Linked DNA regions of Homo sapiens: region 2 is linked to region 1. The links come from fine-mapping of genetic effects on gene expression. Tissue or cell type: whole blood. Region 1 holds a variant in brackets; the other region holds the start of a gene. All regions are shown on one strand. Distances are from middle to middle.

What was found. PIP is the estimated chance that this variant, and not a neighbour inherited with it, causes the effect.
Region 2: TMTC1 starts here. The variant in region 1 is fine-mapped to the expression of TMTC1 in whole blood (INTERVAL, PIP 0.97).

Annotation. Positions count from the first base shown.
Region 1 is chr12:29,683,602-29,686,232 of GRCh38, reverse strand. All of the region lies in intron 5 of TMTC1 (transmembrane O-mannosyltransferase targeting cadherins 1), which reads left to right. Among named protein-coding and RNA genes, the nearest start is that of TMTC1, 99 kb to the left of the region's middle. The variant G/A (reference allele first, on the strand shown) is at 1,561.
Region 2 is chr12:29,782,494-29,784,993 of GRCh38, reverse strand. It overlaps TMTC1 (transmembrane O-mannosyltransferase targeting cadherins 1), which reads left to right and starts at 1,052. Exons shown (of 18, transcript NM_001193451.2): 1 at 1,052-1,544. The coding sequence starts at 1,243.

The DNA.
Region 1 (2,631 bases):
GCAGAAGGGATTGGAGAGAGGTTGAAGGGAAATCAGAGGTGAAGATGTTCAAAGAATCCAGGAGAGTAGAGATTGATGAACAATGTCACATGTAGTCAGATGTCTAGTAAGACCGAATGTGTATTAGGATACTGGATTGGTTGGTGATCTTAGTGAAAGTTTTAGTTCAGTGACTTGAGCAGGTGCTGAATTGGGTTCAGTAGAAATTTAAAAACTGTTGAGTGTGGGAATGGATAATGATGGAGCTTTCAACATCAAGAAAAGTGGCTTTTCCAGGCTCACCTTTTTTTTTTTTTTTTTTTAACAATCTTGCTATAATATAGTCTACAGTTTTAAACCATAGTAAGCATGAGCTAAAGAGTAGTTTGTTTACTTTCTATAAGTGCATTAGCCTATTTTGCTTTTAAATTAGGGAATCTATCTTACAAAATTTGAATTTGATTTATTTTAATCTTGGTATTGAGGCTCTTGGTCAGTTTTGTCAGAATAAATAGCAAATTACATAAAAACAATTTTCAGTAAGTAATTGTACTCATTGAACAGGCTTTTCAATATTACTTGCTGTATTGCAAACCAGGCCTCTTTTTTTTCTGGTTGAAAGTTATGTTTTTTTAATAGAAAATAATGCCTCTTAACAGAGTAATTTGCTTTTTTTAAATTCAGTGGTCAGGTTTGTGAAATTTGTTTTAGAACCATAGGTATATAGAATGAGATATTGTGCCTTTATGTTTTGTCTTTTTAAGCTAAGGTTAATTTTGGTAGCAAAGCAAAACTCAATCTTTTAAGCACTACAATTTTTAATGTATTGTACTTAGTATCAGTTTGTTGGCTATTCTCTGCTTTCCTGGAAAGTTTTTTTTTTTTTATTTTGGAAATAATTTTGGTAACAAAGGATAGTATGCCATTCCATTTGAACAAAGAAAAATGTGAAAATTATGTAAAAATAAATAGGATAGGTTTGAATTCTTACGTGTAGACTGTTTTGTACTGTGCCTGGGAATTTTTTTTTAATCTTTGTGGCAATAATATAGCTCTGGTTAATTTATTTTGCTGCTGCTGAATGATAGTACTTGATATCTAGTTAGGAAAATATTTCCTTAGAGTTGAAATAAATCATTTACAATGTCGGTAAATGCGATTTAGCTGTAAAAATAAAAATGTGTATTGGAAAGATAGGATCTTATCATCCTATGCCCAATTAATCTTTTTAAAAAGTAGTTTCTTAGGTTGGCAATAGAATGCACACTGTTTGAAATAGAAAGGGAAAAAAGGTTTGTAGAATTTTATTAAAAACAACATACCACGTCTGAACAGCAAGAAAACTATGTTTTCAACTTAACTATTGAGTTGGAAAAAATTCTTTGTGTTCACAATAACCAGTCATTTGCAGTTAACAGTGTTAGAAAATAATAATTACAGCCAACTGTGTGTGTGTGTGGCCGGAGAGGGGGAGATCCCATGCCTTATGCTAAGTGTTTTCACTGTATTTTCTTATTTAATCCTCATTACAGCTACAGCTCATAGTAGCACAGTCAATATTTACATCCAGTTCTGAGTCTA[G/A]AGAGAGATCTTATACAGAATTACACACCAATGATCAGTGTATTTTCTGAAGAGTGGGAAATAGTGTCAAAAATAGAAATAAAAAGAAATAAAAAGCTCCTGATGACCCTAGTTCTGGTATTTCTTAACATTAGGAAATGAATCAGATATGAATTTGTTTAGAGGAACTTATTACTGTACTAATTTAGGATTAAAAATAAAGAGAAAGCCCTCTTTTTTGCTGTTGTTAAAATTGTCAACTTCAAATGTGATGTATATAGTCAAATGAGATAAACTAAATATATTTCCTCTATGAGAAAATTTTTCTGAAATTATTTACTGTTAGTTTTGCTCAAGCTGTTAGGAGCTCAAAGACATTTGAGGTTCAAATATTCTCTTTAGCCTTCTTTTTCTCTTGTCATTATCAATAAAACTGCTCTGGAAATTCCAGGTTTTAACTGGAGAAAAAGCAAAAATGGAAAATTAATTTTTTTTAACCTCCTGTTCCACCAACACTGGTTTAGTTTTTCCTATTCGAAGTGATAGGAAGGGTTGGACGCAGGGGCTCATGCCTGTAATCGCAGCACTTTGGTCAGCCAAGGCAGGCGGATTGCTTGAACTCAGGAGTTTGAGGCCAGCCTGGCCAAAATGGCGAAACCCTGTCTCTATGAAAATATAAAACATTAGCTGGGCATGGTGGCACACGCCTATAGTCCCAGCTACTTGGAAAGCTAAGATGGGAGGATTGCTTGAGCCTGGGAGACGGAGGTTGCAGTGAGCCGAGATCATACCACTGTACTCCATGGCTAGGTGACAGAGGGAGAACCTGTCTCAAAAAAAAAAAAAAATGATAGGAAATAGACTATCTTTACTAATTTTAGTTTAGGTATAAGCTTGCTTGTTAGTGCAGACATTTCAACTTCTGAATAATTAGGAGAGTCTATTTGCAAGCTTTGCTTCTTTCAGGTATGCTACATTCTTTTTATTTCTCTTCTTGTATGGGATTTTCTGCTTTTTGTGAACTTTTGAATTGTCTAAAAGAGAAAATTATACAGTCGCATTTAGCAGCGCTTTTCAGAACTGCTGTGGCAA
Region 2 (2,500 bases), 99 kb before region 1:
TAGAATTTTCAGACCTGGAGAAATTCTAGTAATCATCACTCTGGGACATATTATTAAAATTAGTATTTTAAAAAAGAAAACAATCTTTCAGAAAGACAGGAAGTTTAGGAGCCAAAGCCAGAGGCCCTAATACAAATCGCCCCCACCTCCCCATCCCCCCATCCCCACCTTCTTCCCCGCCCTGTTCAAACACGCCCACAGCCCAGGAAATAATGAGACCCAAGTGATCCAGCTAGATAGAAAAAGTAGTTTGCTTGGCATCTCCCAAATTATCTTGAGCAAACAATAAAATAAGAAATGTTTCAGAAGACAATTCGGCTCCCAGGCCCAAACCAAAACTCGAACCTGGTACTTTTTGTAAGTGCGGGCCAAGAAAGGGGCTGTAAAGTTAAAGAGCCGGTGGCGCCTCTGAACACACCCGGGCAGGGCGAGCAGGATGTCCTTGTCCAGGGAGACCCCTTCTCCTGGCTTTGAGGAAGGTGCTCCCTATCCCCGCGGGTTCCTCCGCCAAGCGGGACGCCGCGCCGGGCGGGTGAGAGAAAGCCCGGGCAGGAGAGCACAGAGCCGGCGACTGGACGCGAGCGCGGGGCGGGTGGAGAGCGTCTCTCCGGGCGCCGCTGCTGTTGTCCCGGGTGCTGAAAAGCCGGGAACTTCCCGGGAAGCAGCGGCACTTTTCTCCCTGGAAGGTGGGTGTGGGGGTTCCAGACTGCGCACCTGCTAAACCCTCCTGGGTCCCCCGGGAGGGGTCCGCCAGATGTGCCCCTTCCCAGCCCCATTCGGGGGAGAAGGATGGGGGCGGGGGCGTGGGGGTGAGCACAGCCGGACACCGCAAGTGGGAACCTGGGGTGTCCTTCCCCGCAGCTCCCGGGCAGCCGCGCGCCGCGAACCCCGGTCCACCTGCAAGCAAGGCGGGCCGGGGGCAGAGGGCGCCGGGCTGTGCGGGGGAACCGGCCCGCGTCCCGGGATTGGGGGGCGGTGGAAGAGAGAGCGAGCGGGCATGCGCAGTGGGGCGGAGGAGGTGGCGATGGCCGGGGGAGGCGGGGGGACTGCTGTTTATTTGCAGCTGGGCCAACTCCGCGGCGCAGGCGGCGGCGGAGCGCGGGGAGCTCGCGGCGGGTCCAGCTGCCGCAGCACCATGCCCGAGCCCCCCTCCGGGCAGACGCCGCGCGCCGCCGGGGCCCCGGTAGGGGAGGATGCCAGACGCCCGGGAGAGGCCAGGGCAGCAGCGGCGGCGGCGGCGCGATGGTGGTGACCACCTCTGCCCGAGGCGGCGGCGGGGACCGCACACCCTCCCGGCGGCGGGGCTGCGGGCTAGCGCCGGCCGGGGCCGCGGCGCTGCTGGCCGGGGCAAGCTGCCTGTGCTACGGCCGCTCCCTGCAGGGCGAGTTCGTGCACGACGACGTGTGGGCGATCGTGAACAACCCCGACGTGCGGCCCGGCGCCCCGCTCCGCTGGGGCATCTTCACCAACGACTTCTGGGGCAAGGGCATGGCCGAGAACACCAGCCACAAGTCCTACCGGCCGCTCTGCGTCCTCACCTTCAAGTGAGTCCCTCACCTCGCGCTAGCCGCCGCTGCCTCCTCTACCCTCCGCCCGTCCCTCGGACCGGGAGAAGTTGCGGGACTGACTTGGGGGCATTTCATTTTTGCCGCCCTTTCCCTCCACGCCTCCCTCCTCTCCAGGATGTGCATGGCACTTTGCTCCGGGATCCACTGCCCGGCTAATCTGGGCTCTCGGGGCGGTTCGGGAGGCGCCGGCTGGGGAGTTGGGATCGAGTTTCTCAACTGTCTGCCCTCTCAGCGGGCTTCTCTCTCGAGGCAGGGCTGGGAGCGGGCTGGTGAAACCGCCTCCGCACCCCTTCGCCTGCCGGATCGTGACCAAGTGGGACTAGCGCGGACCCAGAGGGTTCCGGAGGGGTGGCGGTGGTGGCGATGCTTCCAAGTAGAGAATTTCTCGGAGGCTGTTGGGCAGCTTTGCAGATGAGAAGTGTATCAGCCCCTTAAGGGTTTCGTTCAGATGAGACGAGGCGGGAGCCTTGAGCTGACAGGGCTGCGTGGGTTCAGGAGAGGGAGCAGAAAACTCTCCCGAGCCCCCCAGCCCCCGCCTTGCACCCTTGGCTGCTCCCAGAGGCTCTCCAATCTGCCAGACTTCTCTGGATCTAGACTTTAGAAGGTGCAGAGAGAGGTAACGCAGAGCCTAGGCTTCTCCAGGGACCCTGGGGCCCCAGCCGAAATAGTTTTTCTTTTACAACCTCGGAGTCATGATTCAGCGTTTCTGGTGTGAATAAGCGTAAAGGGAACCGAGAATATGCCAGGTTTTTGAGGGGTGGAGTATTTTCTTTAATTTGAAAAGAAGCCTAGCTTCTGAGGAAAGAAGAGAAGTGCTCATTTAAGGGAAATGCTATCTTACACAATCAGGAGCTTGACTCAACCCTTTATAATGTGGCTCAGCATTGAAGTTCATTTTAACGCGCCGGTCAAAACTGTTGAAATAATATTGG